Linked DNA regions of Homo sapiens: region 1 is linked to region 2. The links come from fine-mapping of genetic effects on gene expression. A gene starts in region 2. The other region holds a variant in brackets. All regions are shown on one strand. Distances are from middle to middle. Region 1 holds the start of ACAT2 (acetyl-CoA acetyltransferase 2). Region 2 holds the start of IGF2R (insulin like growth factor 2 receptor).

What was found.
Region 1: its variant is fine-mapped to the expression of IGF2R in caudate (GTEx, PIP 0.97).

What each region holds. Positions count from the first base shown.
Region 1 is chr6:159,759,637-159,770,351 of GRCh38, forward strand. It overlaps ACAT2 (acetyl-CoA acetyltransferase 2), which reads left to right and starts at 2,409. Exons shown (of 9, transcript NM_005891.3): 1 at 2,409-2,506; 2 at 3,283-3,417; 3 at 7,369-7,550; 4 at 8,875-8,992. The coding sequence starts at 2,452. It overlaps SOD2-OT1 (SOD2 overlapping transcript 1), which reads right to left and starts at 2,696. Exons shown (of 2, transcript NR_037166.1): 1 at 2,358-2,696; 2 at 622-2,000. It also overlaps a transcript of SOD2 not described here. RefSeq lists enhancers at 1,662-1,721, 3,790-4,290 and silencers at 2,152-2,211, 2,232-2,381. The variant A/C (reference allele first, on the strand shown) is at 4,483.
Region 2 is chr6:159,961,548-159,972,241 of GRCh38, forward strand. It overlaps IGF2R (insulin like growth factor 2 receptor), which reads left to right and starts at 7,535. Exons shown (of 48, transcript NM_000876.4): 1 at 7,535-7,848. The coding sequence starts at 7,700. RefSeq lists silencers at 7,096-7,715, 7,726-8,005, 8,026-8,155.

The sequences.
Region 1 (10,715 bases), 200 kb before region 2:
TCCAGCCTGGGTGACAGAGCGAGCTCCGTCTCAAAAAAAAAAAAAAAATTCCTCTTCTTTCCTTCATTCATTATTCTTAGTCTCTGTCTGTCTCATATGAGTAGATAATCATATGAGTAGCTATAATGAGGACTCCTCAGGGGACAGATTCTGTTTGGCCACTCAGCAGAAGCATGCAATTACCTTCTCAAGATTGGCTCCTAAACTTACTCTAGATAGAGCCTTCAGGCAGGAAACTCTATATCCCTTGGCTCCAGAAGAATATATTCATACTCATTCAAATGTGCTAGGCACTGGCCATAAAGAATATTGGTGTTCATTCATAACTGCCTATAATGTGCTAGGAGCTGTGCATAAAGCAGTGTAACAGGATCATCTTGGAAAGCTTATGTAGTCAGTAGAGGAGACAGATAAACTAGGAATTACATGGTAAGTTGAAAGAGGAAGTTAGGGGTAAGATGCTGCACCAAATGCAGGAGATTGGAAGGTTTTTCTGGAAGAAGTGATGTTTAGGGGGAGTTTCAGAGGTAAATTTCTGGTTTGGTTAACAGAAGATAGTTTCACTGCTCACTGAGATTACAGAAGAAACAGGCTGGAAGAGTTTGGTTTCAATATGTCAAATTTGATGTGCTTATAGGAAATTTTATTTATTTGAGACAGTTTCTCTCTGTCGCTCAGGCTGGAGTGCAGTGGTGTGATCTCGGCTCACTGAAACCTCTGCCTCCTAGGTTCAAGCGATTTTCCCATGTCAGCCTCCCCAGTAGCTGGGATTACAGGCGCACGGCACCACGCCCGGCTAATTTTTCTATTTTATGGTAGAAACGGGATATCACCATGTTGGCCAGGCTGGTGTCAAACTGCTGACCTCAAATGATCCGCCCTCCTCGGCCTCCCAAAGTGCTGGGATTACAGGTGTGAGCCAAGGTGCCCGACCTGATGTGCTTGTAAGAATTTAAATGAAGAGGGTCAGTCAGCTTAGGAGACGAGGTTAGATGTAAGGATTTCAGACTTGTCAGTATACAGGTGGTGATTGATGCCGTAGGAATGACTGGTATTACCCAGGGAGCTGGTGCAAAGTAGGAGCCTTGGGGAACATGTTAAGGGGATGTGAGAGTAAGCCCACAAAGACTCAGAAGTGGCCAGGGAGTAAGGGGAAAATGGGATAGAATAGAGCAAAAGCCACGGGAGGCATTCCTTGAATTCCTTGGACTCAGATATGTTAGGGGACAGGAAACACATTGAAGACAACTGAAGAGACTTCAGTGTGCTGCTGAGTTCTTAGCAGAGTAGACAGCTGATTTCACCACTATTCCAGACCCTAAAGATTTCTCCTGAAATTGCACTGTTATGCAATTTTTTTCCTTCTCTATTGCCCCACCTCTGGGGCCTACACTCTTTACCTTCTCTGATTTATCTGACCCATCCGCATATCTCTGCAAAGTCTTAATGTAGGTTTCCAGGATTTAATGATTCTTTCAATCAACTTTAAAGTTCTTCAGGAAGATTCTCCAGGTCCGTCAACAGTTTTCCCCTTCATGACTTTGTGACAAAGCTTTCTTGTTCCACTATCCAGGTGTTCCCAACAAGTTGCTGTAACGGTGGCCCCTCATAAGCTTGCCTGGAAACCCTAGAAAGCTCAGAAAAATTATGAACTTTGCCCAGTAAGAGGCTGGGAAGTCAGAAAGGGTTTTAAACAAAACTGACCCCACTTGTTACATGCTCCTTTCACTGTCCAAACGTCAACCAAAGGAACTTTTGTGACGCTAAGACGCTCCCGGCGTCCTCACCCGTTCACAGCCAGAGTTGATCTTAGAAGGCAGGGGGCTCGCACCGAGACGCTCCTAGCAAGCCCCTCACGCGAGCGAATGACTGGCGCCAGGAGAAACGCATAGGACCTCCCGAAGCCGCCGAGAGCAAAAGGACCCATCAGAGCTGTGCTGAGACCCGCCGCGGGCCGGGCTCGCACTCGAGATTCTCGCCCGTGGGATTCCAGTCCTGAGCTGAACGAGAGATAAGTCTTTGTCACCCCCCAGTCTTTACTGTTTCGAGAAACCCTAAGATTTTTTAAAAAAAAGCCCAAGACGTCAAGTCGGGGAACTCCAACATTGGGGTGTCCAGAAACACTGGGGTTTCAGGCGCTCTGTAAATGCGTCCGAGGTCCGCGGTTCTGCCCGCAAGCCCAGACCCCGGCCTCACTTCCGCCCCGCGCCCCGCGCCCCGGCCTCACTTCCGCCCCGCGCCCCGCGCCCCGCGCCCCGCGCGCCTCCGCCCGCCCCTGCTCCGGCCTTGCGCCTGCGCACAGTGGGATGCGCGGGGAGGTGGTGCGCGGGGAGGTGGAGGGCGAGGGGCGGGGCTACCTCAGGTCCCGCCCGCGGCAGGCCTGTGGGCTGCGAGGAGGAGCTTTGCCTAGCTTGCAGGCAGCGCAGGGCAGACGGCGGCAGGAGAAGCAAGATGAATGCAGGCTCAGATCCTGTGGTCATCGTCTCGGCGGCGCGGACCATCATAGGTGAGTGGCCGGCGGGAGCCGCGCAGAGTCCGAGGCGCCTGCTGCTTCGGCAGGAGCGCCGAGGGCCGGACTTGTGTAGGAGAGGGGCGTATGTGGAGGAAGCCGGTCAGGCCAAGCCGCGAGGAGCCGCGGGATCCCTGGAACCCTGCGGCTCCCGCGTTCCCTGACCTGGTGCTACAGCCCCACCCTCTCCTCTCCCGATGTGCGCACTCCGTCCCTCGTGCTTGGATTGGCTCCCGGGGTAGAGCCATCGCGTGGCCTGCCTCTCCCATTGGTTGGCGTAGGGAGGTGTTCTCCTCCGGGGCCCCTGATTGGCCGGCTCCGGGAGGCGCCATCGGTAATGCCTGCGGCAGGGGCGGAACTGCTAGGTGGTCTGAGCCCGGCTTTGGGCTGGGGTCGGGCTGTCACACAATGGCTAGAAGTCGTGACTTCGTCTCCTTCGTGCCGCATGGTTTTCAACGCCCTTGACCCGCCGGTTCCTTTTGTTTGGGAAGCATGGGGTCGCATCCAGTCCTTCGGATTTGGGGAAATAGAAGGGCTACAGCGGCGTCCCTAGGCCGTTCTGGAGGTCGCCTGTCCAGCCCTCGGCTGCTGCGAGTTGTGGCACCCACCTTGACCTTTGCTCAGACCAGCAGGTGTAGGAACGTGTGGGAGGAGAGGGCACTGCCTCCTCGCGTGGCCTTGCCAAACAGGGTCATGAGGCTCCCCTGCTCGTAGGTGGTTCCCGTATTACCCGCAGGCTTGTGATGTCCACGCTCTCCGCCTTTCTATTGTAGGTTCCTTCAATGGTGCCTTAGCTGCTGTTCCTGTCCAGGACCTGGGCTCCACTGTCATCAAAGAAGTCTTGAAGAGGGCCACTGTGGCTCCGGAAGATGTGTCTGAGGTCATCTTTGGACATGTCTTGGCAGCAGGTAAGTCTCAGTGATTCCAGGAGAAGTCAGGCTTATTAGAAACAGCCCATAAACACACACACACACACACACTCTCACACACTCACACACTCTCTCACTCACTCAAGTTCTTGCCTCCTTGCTTTTGCTCAGAGTTCCCTCTGTTATGATTCCTCCTGTTGGCCCCCTTCTTCCAGCCCTGTCAGTAGCTTCTATCCAGCTTGAGACTCAGCTTCTTGGCCAGGCAGGGTGGCTCCCGCCTGTAATCCCAGCACTTTGGGAGGCGGAGGAGGAAGGATCACTTGAGTCCAGAAGTTTGAGACTAGCCTGGGCAACAAAGCAAGACCCCGTCTCTACAAAAAATAAAATAGCCAGGTATGATGGCCTGTGCCTCCCAGCTACTGGAGAGGCTGAGGTGGGAGGATCACTTGAGCCCAGGAGTTTGAGACTGCAGTGATTGTGTCACTGCACTCCGTCATGGGTGACAGAGTGAGACCCCTTCTCTAAACAAACAAAAAGACTTAGCTTCATTAATATGCTTTTTGTGAATGAACTTAGACCACTGACCTACACCACCTACACTGCCTTTTCTTTTCCTTTTTTTTTTTTTTTTTTTTTTTTTTTTGAGACGGAGTCTCTCTCTGTGGCCCAGGCTGGAGTGCAGTGGCGTGATCTCGGCTCACTGCAAGCTCCGTCTCCCGGTTTCACGCCATTCTCCTGCCTCAGCCTCCCGAGTAGCTGGGACTACAGGCGGCCCACTGCCTTTTCATTCTTACGAAGCAGGGCCGGCCGGGCCCGGTGGCTCACGCCTGTAATCCCAGCACTCTGGGAGGCCGAGGTGGGCGGATCATGAGGTCAGGAGATCAAGACCATCCTGGCTGACACGGTGAAACCCCGTTTCTACTAAAAATACAAAAAATTAGCCGGGTGTGGTGGCGGGCGCCTGTATTCCCAGCTACTTGGGAGGCTGAGACAGGAGAATGGCGTGAACCCGGGAGGCGGAGCTTGCAGTGAGCTGAGATTGTGCCACTGCACTCCATTCAGCCTGGGCAACAGAGTGAGACTCCTTTTAAAAAGAAGAAGAAG[A/C]AGCAGCAGCAGGGCCAGCCTGACGCATAGGAAAGTATGCCTGCTCCTCCTTACTACCTCAAAGTGTCACTCATTCAACAAAAATGTATTCAGTTCCTCCTATGTGCCCCATACTGTGCTTAGTGCTGGGAGTATGGTTCCAACAATACAGGTAAGTTCCCTGCCCTCTTAGGGCTCAGTTCTGAGCTTGGAAAATAGGTGCCACATCATGCCCCTTGCAAATGGGGCATATCACTCCCCAGAGGAATATAGCTGAGTCCTGAGAGTGCCCCCATCTTCTGATTCTTTGGGTTTGAACACTCGTAATTAATTAATTAATTATTATTATTATTATTTAAAGAGACAGGGTCTCACTCTGTTGTCCAGGCTGGAATGCAGTGGTGTAATCAATCGTAGCCCACTATAACCTCAAACTCCTGGGCTCCACGGTATCCTCCCACCTCAGCCTCTGGAGTAGCTGGGATTACAGGAGCAGGCCACCACACCTGGCTAATTTTTTAAATTTTTTTGTAGAAGTGGAGTCTGTCTGTTGCCTGGGCGTGAGTGCAATGGCTGTTCACAGGCACAATCATGGTGCACCATGCCCTTGAACTTCTGAGCTAGCTGGGACTACCGGTGCATGTCTACTAAGTTTAAGGCTTTTAAAGCACTGTGCTAAATGCTTTCCTTTCATTACCTCATTTAATCTTCCTCACAAGTCTGTTATATCCTATTATCTTCATTTTACAAATGAATAAATGAGAGTTTAAGAGGTTAAATGACTTACCAGGGTCACAGTTTGAAGTGGAGCTAGCACTTGAACTTAGATCTGTCCTATTCCTTGAGCCAGATACCTTCTACAATCATGTAACAAATGTTTATTGAGCACCTACTTTGTGCCAGGCACTATTTTAGCAGCTGGAGATAAGCAATGTTCATATCAGATAGAAATTCTCATTCTCATGAAGCTCGTAGTATGCTAAATGCTAGCATTATTAATTGTGTTAGCACCTCATTTCTTTCTTTTTCTTTTTTTGAGATGGAGTCCCACTCTGTTGCCCAGGCTGGAGTGCAGTGACGCAATCTTGGCTCACTGCAACCTCTGCCTCCCGGGTTCCAGTGATTCTTCTGCCTCAGCCTCCCAAGTGACTGGGATTACAGGTGCCTGCCACTGTGCCCAGCTAATTTTTGTATTTTTAGTAGAGATGGGGTTTCAACATGTTGGCCAGGCTGGTCTCGAACTTCTGACCTCAAGTTATCCACCCGCCTCGGCCTCCCAAAGTGCTGGGATTACAGGCATGAGCCACCATGCCCAGCCCTGTACCTCATTTCTTCTTTTTCTTTTTTTTGAGATGGAGTCTCACTCTGTCGCCCAGGCTGGTGGAGTGCAGCCGTACAATCTCGGCTCACTGCAACCTCTGTCTCAGGTTCAAGCAATTCTCCTGCCTCAACCTCCTGAGTAGCTGGGATTACAGGCGTGCACCACCATGCCCAGCTAATTTTTGTATTTTTAGTAGAGAGGGGGGGTTTCACCATATTGTCCAGGCTGGTCTCAAACTCCTGACCTCAAGTAATGCGCCCCCCTCCCCCGGCCTCCCAAAGTGCTGGGATTACAGGTGTGAGCCACTGCTCACAGCCTGAGGCACCGCACTGGGCCTGTCTTTTTAATATGTATATGATCCTGCATATGTTTTCAGTCTCAAGTAACCTTACCCGTTTTTAGTTTCCAGCCTAATCCCAGATTGATAACATTGTGATGAATATAATCTCTAAGTTTTTATCAGCGACTTATTTGCTAGTTCTTCCCCACAAACTCTCCAAGGAAGGGTGGTAGGTTTGAGTATATCTGAAACTGGGAATAGAGTAACCACTTTATAAACATTTACCATTGACTCTGATAACAGACAATGGCGATTGAGAATATTTGAAACTTTTAACTCCATTCTCTTCTGTGCTACTTTAAGTAAATTATGTATTTCTTCCCAACTAAAGGAAGTCCCATAGTTGAATTATGAAAAGATATTTGTGTTTCAGTACTCAGAATGAGAAAAAAAGGTATTTGTGAATTCTGAGTTTGTATATATTTTGTTATATAACCATTTAAGCATAGTGTAATGAATACTAAGCAAGAACAGAACTGCTTATTATCAAAGGTTTTCCTTTTTAAGTAACCCTTTTTCTTCTCAAGTGTCTTAAGCCATGATCTTGGGAGCAAATGGCCCTAGTTAGAAACACTGATAATGCCTAGGTTATATCCTGTGTTTATTAGACATAGGTTTGATAATGCTTATTTAAGCACCCCCCCGCACTTTTTTTTTTTTGAGACGGAGTTTCGCCCTTGTTGCCCAGGCTGGAGTGTAATGGTGTGATCTCAGCTCACCGCAACCTCCGCTTCCCAGGTTCAAGCAATTCTCCTGCCTCAGCCTCCCTAGTAACTAGGATTACACTCATGCGCCACCACGCCTAGCTAATTTTGTATTTTTAGTACAGACAGAGTTTCTCCATGTTGGTCAGGCTGGTCTCAAACTCCCGACCTCAGGTGATCTGCCCTCCTTGGCCTCCCAAAGTGCTGGGATTACAGGCATGAGCCACCGCGCCCAACTATTTAAGCCATATCAAAAGATGAGGATGACACTTCTTTCTTAATGTATTAATGACTTATTTATGGAGGAGAAAGCTTATATCTATGAAATACCTACAGAGCAGCACAAGGCAGTATATATTCAAGGGCTAGACTGTGACAGGTGGAGAGTGTATACAGGCCTTTTTGCCTCCAGTGGGCACTTACTTGACCTGTAGGCTTTCAGAAGTGGCAGGTAACCCAACTGGCAATTTTCCACACACTTTCACTGTGACATTTTGTCTTTCTCCTTGATTGCTAAGAGTCCTCTGTGTTCCTCTTTCTAGGCTGTGGGCAGAATCCTGTTAGACAAGCCAGTGTGGGTGCAGGAATTCCCTACTCTGTTCCAGCATGGAGCTGCCAGATGATCTGTGGGTCAGGCCTAAAAGCTGTGTGCCTTGCAGTCCAGTCAATAGGGATAGGAGACTCCAGCATTGTGGTTGCAGGAGGCATGGAAAATATGAGCAAGGTAAGGCCTCTCTGATGAGGTGGCTTTCACTGACCTCACACTGAGAAACTCATGTCTATGCCAGAACAGAGTAAACAGATGCATAGCAGAGCTGGAACCAAACAGTGAACAAATAAACAGAAATGACAACCTTGATCCCTACTTGAATGTGAAGTATTCTTCAGTTTGGGTGGGAAATCCGGGTTGATAAGAAGTTTATCAACCAGTGTGATTGGAACCGAATATACTTTTTCTAAACTATTAATGAAGCATGTAATATTTTCTGAATTAAATTCATATTAGTTGCTTGATGTCCTTGGTTTTAAATTTCTTTCCCATTGTGAGTAAAAGGCAAAAAACAGATGTTGCCACTTACCTTCCTGCACATGACAAGGAGATCCTGGGGACCAGACTTTTTGACCTTTTCAGGGTATAGAACATGTAAAAGAGGACCACCAAGTGGTGCCCTTCTCCAGTAGGTTTGCCAGGCATGATTTGTTTCACCAAGTTCCATACCTCAAACTGGCATAGTGGTTGAAAGAAAAACTATACCCCCTGCTTCCTACTGATGCAGCTCAGGGGCTGAGGTGCAGATTCCCTAGATAGAAGCTGATTCAGCCCAGCCATTGCTGAGGTTCAGGAGGAGGCAGGCTAAAGGTAACAAAAATAATCGGAGTGATTTTGATGGGATGATACTGACATCTGTGTAGTACTTTACCAGGTGCTTTTGTACATGTGTTCACAACAGCCCCATATAGGGTAGATGATACCATTCCCAGTTTACAGGTAAGGAAACTGAGGACCAGAGCCAGCATTCAAATACAACTCTTCCGACTCTAAGTCCAATCAATGACTCTTTCCATTCTAATATACCTGCTGTTGAGTTGGTGAGAGTTAAGACTGGCCGCTACTCAGAAATCCCTCCCCATCATTTAGTTAGCCTGATTATTCTCACTGTAGACATTATGTCATCCATTGAAATAGGTAACACATTGTTAGCTTTACTTAAGCCCTTAGAGGATTTCTTCATTTAACAGATAATTAATTGCCTCGATGGAAAGAATAAATGGAATTCTTAAGGAAACAGGACACAGAATGGGTAGGTTTGAGGGAGAATTGAAAATGGGTAGGTAGGAGAGTAATCGTTCCCAACAATAGGAAAGATGAAGTCTGCTAATTCCAGGGGTCTTTAGACCTTGGCCTGGCTGAGGACCTAGAACTGGGGAGAAGGGCTGCAAAGGGGCCTAGATGAAGACTTAGGAAATACTAGATAGTTTTGAGTTGTATTCTGGGGAGAAGACTAATTGCAACTAAGCCTAAATCCATTTTTATTTCTGACTTCTAGGCTCCTCACTTGGCTTACTTGAGAACAGGAGTAAAGATAGGTGAGATGCCACTGACTGACAGTATACTCTGTGATGGTCTTACAGATGCATTTCACAACTGTCATATGGGTATTACAGGTAAGGCAGACATGGCTGAAACTGTATTAGCTTTAAAAAGGTTAAAAAGACCATATACTAATCTGCTTCTTAGGTGCTTTCGTCCTTATGGCCAGAGACTGTCTTAAGGATTTTTATATCTCTTCTTTGATTAACTGAAGTGAAGTAAGTATTCTCTTCTTTGTGAACTCTTGATTATCAGAGAATGTTAGAAGTGGGAAGTACCTCAGAGTTCTTCTGGATCAACCCCTCATTTTACCAAATGAAGAAACAGGGCCCACAAATAGTGCTTCTGTGGCAGAGGTAGTGACAGAGATAAACCAGTTGTTTTTTTGGTACCTAGCTGTACTTTTTGTACTACACAATTGGGTTATTGGTCATTCATGCTGAAGGGTCCTGTGGTCTAAGTTTAATGGCAAAGCAACTGGGAAATCAAAAGCACTCTTGTCTTTAGTATACATGTAAAACTTAAGAAACAGAATAGACATTTTAGAGTTAAAGAATCAAACCCTGAGAAGTTAAGCACCTTGCTCAAATGCATGCAGCAATGGCTCTGGTTTTATGTAACACATAAATATGTGAAAAAGGTAATGGGGAAAAGTACAAGATTCCAAGAGGGAACTGTGTGCATGAATGCTAGGAAGGAAGGAAGGGCTTAGGGATATGGGAAGCAATGAGAAGCTCAAGGCATCTTGACCACTTCTCGACTTACAGCCACAACAGAGAAGGCTATAAAAACACAGGCAGACAATGGAAGACACTGTGTGACCAACTGCCTCAACCATAACTAGAGGTGGTCATTAAAAATTCAGATCCCGAGCCCTTTCCAAGGTGTACTGTGGATTGAATGGTACTCTTCCAGCCTCCAGAACTGTAAGAAAATAAATTGCTCTTCTTTAGAAAAAAAGAAAAGAAAAAAGGCTCAGGTCATGATGGAGTAATTGACAAAGATTAGATTTCCTACTATAAACAAGCATAAAACTTGTGAAAATATATAAAGCCACTGTTTTATGTATGTCAGGTTTTGACTAATACTCATGTAAGACTGAGATCCTTGAGAGAAGGGAAAACCCCACTGTCACTGTCTCTACCCAGGGCACTTCCCAAACTGTGTTATGGAGAGGCAGAGCCTAAGCTGGAAACAGTGGTCTCAGTGATCTGAAGAAGCAGAGAATTTGGGGCTTCTGAGATGGCTGGAGTTTGTGGGGCAGAATAAGGGGGAGAAGAAAAAAAGAGCTCCAGAAATCTGCAAAAGGTTCCCCTTAAGTCTTTGATCAAATACTAAGCTTGTAGATAACAGCTTACAAGGCCTAGTAGAAAAGAGCTGCAAAGGAGAGGTGAACTGGAGATTTTATAGATTACTAGGAGATAAAAGTTCTGGACAAGCGAGTGGAAACCTTACTGAACTCCTTGGACACTCCATTGACATCTCAGAAAGACCACAGTTTAGGGGTAGGGCCAAAGCCATAGAGTAAAAGCTACTCTAGACCCAAACTAATAAGCTTAAAAACAAGCCTCAAAAGGATCAAGGTGATTTGCCAGTATTTTGACTGCTTGTGGAAACAAAACTCAATATATTCTCTAAAGATAATAAAATCTCTATGTCCAGTTATGTAGCAACTATAATGTTCAGCATGCAATGAGAACTTTCTAGATACACAAAGAATTAGGAAAATATAGCTTACAACCAGGGTGGAAAAAAACCACAACAGTCAACAGACCCTGCAATACTAGAATTATCAGA
Region 2 (10,694 bases):
TAACTGTGGTGCTCTTCAAGTGTGGCAAGTTGTGCTTTCCAAAGATAGCCACACCTGGATATTTATTCTGTTTCACATGTTCTTCTTATGATGTGAGTAGCCCTCCCCCATTGAGAGCTAGAGTCTAGGTTTCCTCTTTTTGAAGCTGGGTAGGGCTTGGTGACTGTCCTGATCACAATGGCAAAATTGGTGTCCTGTGATCCAAGAATGAGTCATAAGAAGGATGTAGCTTCCACCTCGCTTACTCTTCCTTCTCTCTCCTTTTGCTTGACTTGGAACCCAGCTACCACAGCTGAAGAAACTCCGGCCACATGTGGAGGCTATATGCAGGCATTCCAGCTAAGGTCTCAGCTGACAGCCAGCACCAACCATCAAATGTGCAAGTGAAAATCTTTCAGATGATACCAGTTTCCATCCTTCAAGTCTTAAAGCTGAGGGCCCAGAAGTCTTAAAACAGAAATGAGCCATTCCGACTGGACCCTGTCTAAATTCCTGACCCCATTAATTCTCACTAGTGAGAATTAATAAATGATGGTTGTTGTGTTACACCACTGGATTTGAGGGTAATTTATTACACACTGATAGACAGTTAATACTAAGAGCCTATTTTCTCTTTTGTTCTCTCCCTGGCAATTTCTTTCACTATGCCAATGTCTTGTTATCCTTCTCATCACCTTCCTCCCAAGTCAACTCTCCCATCTTTGCAAGTGCCTCCCCATAATTACATTCAATGCAGGCTTCCTGCCTGTGTTCAGTGTTGCATTACCAGTTGTCTAGTGGTCACCTCTGAATACCTAGACTTGCTATTGCACAAAAAGATACTTAGCGTCTTGCTCCTCAGATTCATTTCTCTTCTGTTTTCTCTGTTCTCTGGAACCAATCTACCTGTCTACAAGCGTTGATCATCATTGACTCTTTCTTTCCTGTCTGTCCTACCCAACAGGTTGCTAAGTGCTGCATTGGGTCAGTTGGTATGATTTTGGCTGCAAGAAATACAAAAGTTAGCTAATCATGGTGTGGCATTTTGGGGCCAATCAGGAGGTAGAAACAGGGGAGTCTTAATATAAATAATTACTAACTATGATGAAGGAGTAACTGTAAGATGTAAGAAAACTCTACATAGTCCCTCAGGCTGACGGAGAGGACTCAAGGAATGACAAGCCTTCAGATCTGAAGGCATTCAGATTTCATGGGAAAAGGTTTGTTTCCATTTATTGGATAGCAGACTGGCCAGGCTGGAGCTGGCCTGCACTAGTATGCAAGTTGGGGAGCAGGTGGTCAGCACCTCATGGTATGGATGTCCTGGGAACAGCAGGAGAATCTCTTCTGCAGTTTGCCTCCAGTGTCCTCTGCTCAGAAAGCTTAATGTCATTTAGTTGAAAGGAGAACTGCTTAAATGGATTCCTTTATCACAGAGCATATACTAGAAGATGCATTCAAAGCAGAGAGGCAATACATTAATAACACATGCACTTGGCTTAGGCATATTTATTTATTCTATCACAAAACAAAAGATCGGATACAAGAGTTTTGGTGAAGTGGACCAGTGTCATTCAGGATCCTGATGTCTTCCGTCTTGTTCCCACTGTGTTGGCCACATTTTCCCTCACAGTTATGAGGGGACAGCAGTTTCATATAGAAATTACTGCATCCAGACAACAAAAAAACACAAAAGGGGAAGGGATTTCTGTTTTGCAACTCTTTTTATTGGAGAGAAAGCATTTTGCAGAAGATCTCAGGAGACTTCCCATCGAGTTCCATCATCAGGACTGGGTCATACGCCCTTGCTCTGGCTGTAAGAATGTCTGGGAAGTGAGAATCTCACACCCACAGCCTCTGGTGGAGGTGGGCTTTGCCAGCAATCAAGGGCATGAGATGCCTGCAGGAAGGCAGCCAACCACACCTGCCTCATGCCTCTAACCCTATTCCCCTCTAAATTCCCATGCCAAAGCCTTAGGGCATTATCTTTGATAGTTACCTGGCCAGGTGTTAACTAACTGGGAACTGGGTGTTTTTGAAGGACACAAGGCTTTCTGCTGTCGAATTTGTCACCTTAATTGTGATACTTTTAATAAATTAGCTTCCAGTCTATCTTAAAACCAGATGGATTTTCCTGATGTGTCACCGTGAACATCTCTCTTTCTCCAAATCTCTCAATGAGGAGGCAGTTGATGAGTTAACTGCATGGGCTTTGGTCCCAGATCATACAGCTCACATCCAAGCGCTGTCACTTACCAACTGCATGACCTTGGGCAAGGTATATAATTTCTTTATGACTGAATTGCTCATCTTTTCAAGGAGGGTAATAAAATTACCTATTTGGTGGGATTGGTATTAACAGTAAATGATATAATACAGGAATGGTATTGACAGTGAGCCTTCAGTATGTATTATTGTATCTGCTGTTATTGTTCCCTACTTCATATCCAGCCAAATCTAAGCTTATTAGATGACCATTTAAGATCCTCTAGGAGCTGGGCACAATAAAAATTTTCAAACTTATATAAAAATTGACTACGTCCTAAACTGCGAGCTCCTTGAGGGAGGGATTATATTTTATGAGCCCAGGATCTAGCACAGTTTTTGGCCAAAAGTAGTTTTTCTTTATTCCCATGTGACTTTTGCTTAAGCAAAAGGCCTTGTACAGCAAATACAGCTTCTGTATTTTACCATGGCCTTGCACTTGCTGTTCTTTGTGCCTACAATGTCCTTTCCCTAAATTTCCCCCATTCTTCCAGATTCACTCAAAAGCAATCTCTTTCATGATGAGATCTCTTTCCCAATTCTCATTTTGAAAAATGTCAAACCTATAGAAAAGTTGAAAGAATAGTACAAGAGCACTGATATATTCTTCACTACATTTGTGACTGTTAATATTTTTAACCTCTGCTTGCTATTCATACATATATTCTTTTTTTCCCCTGAAATCATTTGAAAGTTGCCAACATCATGACACTTCACTTTCAGCATGTATCACATAAGAACAAGCACATCGTCCTATGTAATCACAGTAGCTTTATCTTATGAAATTTAACATTGATTCAATATTATTTACTGTACATTTTTTCTTGGCAGTTTATGATCTTAGAAATCAAGAAGCCTAAAATGAATCACTGTGTGTTTTGAGGGTCTTTTGGTAGAATCATGTTCCTTTCTGGGTGTTCTAAAAAGTTCCTGGATCTTTGGGGTGAGATTCTGTTTGAGTTTCAGAACAATGTGTGCATGCCATCAGTTTGATAGCTCATGGTTTGTGTTCCAAAGGGGCAGCTATTAGTGTTACCTGTCCCTGCTATTGCTCTTGACATCATGCAGGGACATCCTCAGTAGCTGCTCTTTCTGCCCTTGGTCTGTCATTTGAGCTTGTGTTTCCAAAGTCAGATGCAGGAAGATTGGGTCCTCACAACAGGGCGGTGGTTGGAGCACCTGGATGCCAAGCCTGGATCTGTCCTATCATTTGAGGGACATTTGTGTTCTTGGCTATTTGTGTTCTTAGGCTGCCATAACAAAGTACCTCTGGGTGGCTTAAAATGACAGAAATTGTCTCACACAGTTCTGGAGGCCGGAAGTCCAAAACCAAGGCATTGGCAGGGTCACGCTCCCTCTGAAGGCTCTAGGGGAGAATCTGTTCCATGCCTTTGTCCCAGCTTCTGGTGTTGCTGGCAATCCTTGGTGTTCCTTGGCTTGTAGATGCATAGCACCTCCATTCTCATATGGCTGCCTTCTCCTTGTGTGTTTCTTGCCCACTTCTTGAAAGTACACCAGTCATACTGGATTAAGAACCCACCCTACTCTAGTATAACCTCATCATAATTTATCCATAAGGAATGACCCTATTTTCAAATAAGGTCACACTTGAAGTACTGGGGGTTATGAGTTCAACGTATTCTTTTAGGGGACACAATTCAGCCTATAACAGGGGGTCTTAGGCTGATATCTGTGAGTCTCTGCTTCCTCAAAGGTTTTTCAGAAAATTTAAATGAAATACAGGAGAATTATGCCCTGCAGTATTTGACTTTACAGCAGGAGTCCCCCAACCCTCCGGGCCATGGACTTGTACTGGTCTGTGGCCTGTTAGGAACCTGGCCGCACAGCAGGAGAACGAGGGCATTACCGCTGAGCTCCGCCTCCTGTCAGATAAGTGGTGGTGCAAACCCTATTGTGCATGAGAGGGGTCTAGGGTGGACTGTCCTTGTGATGCCTGATGAAACATCCCCCACAACAGCCCTCCACCATCCATGGAAAAATTGTCTTCCACGAAATTGGTGCCTGGTGCCAAAAGGTTGGGGACTGCTGCTTTAAAGTCCCTTATATAGGATTTACATTAAAAATTTTCCAGTGGTCTCCAAATGTCCCTTATACCTTCCTATTTTTGGGTCTAGGCTCCAAGTAAGAATCACGCATTGCATTTTGTCATGCCTTTTTAGTCTCCTTTAATTTAGGACAATGGTTCTCAAACTTCCATGTGTATGAGAATCTCCTGGAGAGCTTGCTAGAGCAATCTCCTGGTGCCAAACTTCCACGTTTATGAGAATCTCCTGGAGAGCTTGCTAGAGCAATCTCCTGGTGCCAAACTTCCACGTGTATGAGAATCTCCTGGAGAGCTTGCTAGAGCAATCTCCCGGTGCCAAACTTCCATGTGTATGAGAATCTCCTGGAGAGCTTGCTAGAGCAATCTCCTGGTGCCCATCTCCAGAGATTTTCATTCAATAGGTTGAGGCAGGACCCATGAAATGGCATTTCTAACAAGCTGGTAGGTGACACAAAAGTTGCTTGTCTAAGGACCGCACTTTTGAAAACCACTGATCTAGAACAGAGGTTGGCAAGCTTTTTCTGCGGAGGGCCATATGGTAAAATATGTTAGCATTTTCAGGTCATACAGTCTCTGTTGCAACGACTCAACTGTGTCATTGCAGGCAAAAGCAGCCCTAGATAATACATAAACACATGGGTGTGGCCGTATTCCCACAAAACTTTATTTACAAAACAGCTGCCTTACCACATTTGACCCACAGGTTATTGCTTGCTACATGGATTTAGAGTAGCACTTCCACTTTTTTTCTCTTTTTTTTTTTGGAGGAGAGTTGTTTTTTCAGCGCATTAATATTTTGCAATAGTCCAGTTCAGTTTTCTTGTCATATGTTTCACAGTTTGAATTTGATTGTTTTATCTCAATTAGATTAAGTTGAACTTCTTGGCAAGACTACTTGTGATAGTGTGTACGGTAGGGAATAACTGTGAAAGACTTTGAAATGGACCAAAAATATTAGTGGTCAACTGTAATGGAATGCTAGCTGTTTAGTACAGTCTTTTGGGTTATCTGATTCTATGGGGTCTTGTGTCTGCCACTGTCTTTGAGGTATTTTACAACTCTGTAAATTGTAGACTACTGATGGTAATATACACGATTTTTGTCTTTAGAAATGCAAATTGTGTCTATTGCGTACGCAGCTGTTTTTTGACCTATGGTTACTGACCAATTTTCCATCTATAGACAACCTTATTTCAGCATTCCTAACTGCTTGAATATTTGTTGGATTCTCCTTGGATTTTCCTTTGAACCAGCTGTGACATGTTACCGGTTCTCACATTAATGAATGAGCTAAGGAATACCTTTGATACATGTTCATTCTACATCTGAGTCATGATTATACCATCTTTTAAATATTACCCTTTAGCATTTTTTATTGCATCACTTTAGAAAGCAGAAAATGCTAGTTTTTTAAAAATTGGTGATACTAGTTTTAATTACTTGATTAAGGTGGTTCTACCAGATCTTTCCATTGTGAAGAGGTATTTTGTGTTTTTTAAGGAAGTATACTTTGAAGGTGATACTTTGAGACAAAGAGAATATTCCGCTTCACAATAATTTTTCACCAGATGGTTTTAGTATTTACTGATGGTCTTTGCCTGTATCCATTATAACACTGGAGTTGCAAAACACAAACCCTTTTTCTTTTTTTTTTTTTTTGAGATGGAATCTCGCTCTGTTTCCCAGGCTGGAGTGCAGTGGCACGATCTCTGCTCACTGCAACCTCTGCCTCCTGGGTTCAAGCGATTCTCCTGCCTCAGCCTCCCGAGTAGCTGGGACTACAGGCGTGTGCCACCACGCCCGGTTAATTTTTTGTATTTTTAGTAGAGATGGGATTTCACTGTGTTAGCCAGGATGGTCTCGATCTCCTGACCTTGTGATCCGCCCGCCTTGGCCTCCCAAAGTGCTGGGTTTACAGTCGCGAGCCACCGCGCCCGGTCACCACAAACCCTTTTTCGACGTCCACAGTTTACACCTGAGCTCTCCCTTTGACCCACTACAACACTTTCTTTTCTTGGGCAATATATTAATAGCACGGTGGTTATGTCACAGGCCTGTGACTGGCTTGGGCTCAAACCCGGGCTTTTTCACTTACTAGCTGCAAGACTAACTAGTTATTTAATTTCTCCATTCCTCACTTTCCTTATCTGCAAAACGGATGCAATAAAGGCACCCCCTCTTACAGGACTGTTAGGATTAAATGAGCTAAATCACAGTGTCCGAACACTTCAGTACTTCGTACATAATTACTTGCTCAAGAAATGTTAGCTATTATTGGGTCATGATTATTTATATGTGTTTGAATTCCAGCTTTGCCACATCCCAGAGTGTCTTTGAGTAAGTCACTGAGTATCCTTGTGCCTCAATTCCTCATCTATAAGTAGGTTCCCATCTCATAGGTTTTTAAAGATTCATGCTTACATGCTTAGCAGTGTCTGGTATGGAATAAGCACTAAAAAAGATGAGCTTTTATGATGATGATGATTACTATTTTCAGTCATGATTATTTTGTATATTTACTCTAAAAGAAAGTGAATTTTTTTAGTTCAAGACTTTTAGATTCATCGTTCTACTTTCATTGTGGCTAGCTCATGGCCATCCACGTAGTGAATTAATAAAGCTTTGTTGAGTGGCACTTGCTTGACAGCGACACTTTTGTCCACTCTTTCACCTTGCTGGATTTGTGCTGCCTTCCTTGCTGTAGGAAGCCCACGCTTGGGAAATAACATTCCCACAGAAGGTCTGAGAGGCTCTGACGGGCCAAGGTTGTAAACCCCCATGATTTGACTCCACGGGCAGTTAAAGTGTGTTCCCACCCCCCACGGATCCGCTGCCACTAGGCTGTGCGAAGGCATTTACCTCCCTGGCACTTTGATCCAAGTTCCCTATTTTCCCCTACTGGTCGATCGAGGTTGGGAACAGTTGCTCTAACCTGGGAAGCACCCGCCACGATCCAGCAGGGCGCGGTGGGAGGGGAAACTGAGGCCCGGCTAGGCACCCCCGCCGCGCCCAGCCCGCCGAGAGGCTCAGGCCCCGGGAGGCACCTGGAGCCTGCGCCCCGCCCGCGCCGCTTCCTGTCCCGCGCGCTGCGCTCACGTGACCCGGGCCTGGGAGGAGCCGGGGCGGGCGGGGGTCACCTGAACAAGGGAGTCACGTGAGCGGGGGGCGGGGGTGGGGGGGCGGTGCCGGGCGGCTGTCACGTGACGCGGTTCCGGGGCCGCCGCTGCCGCTGTCGCTGTCGCCGAGCCCAGTCGAGCCGCGCTCACCTCGGGCTCCCGCTCCGTCTCCACCTCCGCCTTTGCCCTGGCGGCGCGACCCCGTCCCGGGCGCGGCCCCCAGCAGTCGCGCGCCGTTAGCCTCGCGCCCGCCGCGCAGTCCGGGCCCGGCGCGATGGGGGCCGCCGCCGGCCGGAGCCCCCACCTGGGGCCCGCGCCCGCCCGCCGCCCGCAGCGCTCTCTGCTCCTGCTGCAGCTGCTGCTGCTCGTCGCTGCCCCGGGGTCCACGCAGGCCCAGGCCGCCCCGTTCCCCGAGCTGTGCAGGTGGGTGGCCCGCCCGGACGCAGGCTCCGCTCGCGGTGCCCGGGGTGAGCGGCCGGCGTGGGGGGCGGGGAGCGCTCGAGGAGCTCCTGGGGTCTCCAAGTCGCCTCCGTTCCGCGCCGGGGTCCGCCCCGTTCCCGAGGGAAAGTTGCCTGCGTGGTGTCCGCGAGTCCCGCCGGGTCCCGTGCGCAGGCGGGGGGCGCGGGGGCACACGCGGTCGTGGCGGTCCTGGAGCCCCGCGTCCGGCCACTTGTGGCTGTCGCTGAGTCGGGGGTGGCTTTGTGCGGAGCGGTCGCCCCGGCCCTTGGGGTCGGCGCCTGCCCTCGCGCGGCCGGGCGTCCGGGAAAGTTGGAGGCAGGAACTCCAGTTTGCTTTGTTCCCGCTGCGCGTTTGCATCAGAGTTTCGCCAGCGGGGCACCGGTGAGGCCCCTCGGTGTGGAGAGGCTCACCGGGGCGTTGGAGCCCGCAGGAATGGTCCTGGAGTTGAGTGTTTGTGGTTTCATTTGCTGATTGATTTCCCCCCGTGGGCTCATTTTCTCTTTAAAGAATATATATATATATATATTTTTAGCAGGCGGTGACTTTTGTCTTCTTTAGATTGGGGGCAGGGGGTGTCGTCCAGTGTGAGCTTTCAAGACTTGACCCTTCACTTCTCTGAGCCCAACTTCCTGCCTGGTTGCTCACATGATGTCATTGTCTCCGGGGCGGATTATTCTAGTGGATCTTGCTCTGGGAACCATGATTGTATAACCCATCAGTCCCATCGAGGGCTGTTCACCTCGCGCAACTGCTAGCAGTCCAGGGCCTGGGGAACTTCGAATTTCAGGAATTTTCTGACCATCCTTTTCTGGACTGTTTAGGATGATGGAAAATTCAGCTTTTGTTTATTTTTTTAAACTTTGGTAAAAAGGAAGCAGGATGAAAAGTTTTGAACAGACAACAGTTTCTCCCTGTTACTGTTACTTTTACAAGTTACTTTTACAAGTTACTTTTCAGAGTGAAACAAAGTTGAGCCTACTTTGGGCTGAACTTGGAGTTTGTGGTAGGGTTTATGGGGGGGGTTCTTATTTTTCCCATGCATCAGAGATAGTTTTATTAGCACCCCTGTGTTCAGAACATGCAGAAATTAGTCTAAGGAGGGTGAGGCTGATCTCACGATAGAAACTCTTTGGAAAGGCCCATATTTTTTATGCTCCCTTTTTTGGAAGGGGAAGGGTGGATGGAGGGAGAGTTTGTGACACTAGTTTAAAGACCAGTTAGCTACCCTAAGATACATAGTTACTCCAGTAACTAGTATGATACAGAGAAATGGTGGCAGCTTAAACGAGGTCAGGCTGAGAACAACATTTAGAGGAAGGCATTTTGGAATAATGGCTTCTGTGACCAAAAATAAGAAATTAACTCGCCTGGGCGCGGTGGCTCATGCCCGGAATCCAGCACTTTGGAAGGCCGAGGTGGGCGGGTCACTTGAGTCCAGGAGTTGGAGGCCAGCTTCAGCAACATGGCGAAACCCCGTCTCTACAAAAAATATGAAAATTAGAGCCGGGCGCGGTGGCACACTCCTGTCCTCCCAGTTAAGGGAGGCTGAGGTGGTAGGATAACGTTAGCCCCGCAGGTCGAGGTTGCAGTGAGTTGTGATCGAGTCGAGTTGCACTCTAGTCTGGGCGACAGAGCAAGGCCCTGTCTCAAAAATAAATAAATAAATACAATAAGAAATTAACCCAGCTGGCCTAGTGTGGTTGAAGTCTTGGTCTTGTTAACAAATTGAAGTTTGTTTTCTTCACAGTTAAGATTAAGGTGGCTTCAAGGGCAGACTGATACTTTGGCTGATTGATGGGACCCTTACTTTTGCATTAGGTTAGTCATGGCAGTGTCTTGAACCTGTGTTCACGAACTTCATCTCCAGGTGGAACACGGCCTCTTGGTCTAGTAGGAATGGCCTTTGTATCTTTACGTTTTTCTGGCCACTGTCACACGTGGGCATACTTAGCAAATGCTGAAGAGGTTTCTGAGGTTGATATGCATTGTGAATATAATAAGATCTGCCCTTTGTAGTCTTAGAATATCTTAAAAGTTGTGTTTAATTTTTCTGCCAGATTTTCTTAGGATGACAAATCTGCCAATCATTTCAGAGACGGATTTTCACCCACCTCTTTCCCTGTTACTTCCCTGTAGTTGCACATGCAGACTTCTCCAGAACCACTTGCAATCTCTACTTTAAACCCAACATGTGCCAAGTGAACTTCCTGTCTGTTCCTGTTTTATAATTTTTTGAGGCAGGGTCTCACCGCGTTGCCCAGGCAGAAGTGCAGTGGTGCAGTCATAGCTCACTACAGTCGTGAACTCCTGGGCTCAGGCAGTCCTTCCACCTCACCCTTCTGTGTAGCTGGGATTACAGGTGTGTGCCACCCCACTTGGCTTATTATATATTTTTTAAAATTTTTAATAGAGATGACGTCTTGCTATGTTGCCCAGGCTGGCCTCAAGCTCCTATCCTCAAGTAATCTTCCTGCGTCAGCCTCCCAAAGTGTTGGGATTACAGGCATGAGGCACCATGCTGGGTTTATGTTCCTGTTTTAAACTGATACCTCTCCTTAAATACTTTTTGAAAACTTTTCTTGGGGCGGGGGAGGTTATCAGTCATCTGTACTTTTATGAGATAAAACTGGCTAAAATTTCCGTAAATGTAGCATGTAGTTGAGGAATAGGAATGTAAGTTGATTTTTTTTTTAATTTGATACAAAAAATTTTATCGTGTCACCAAGGTGTGACGTGTTAAGCTCCATTTTAATTTTGTTCCTGGGCATCAGTTTGCTGAAATGTAAATAACTCGGCCAGGTCTCCACTGT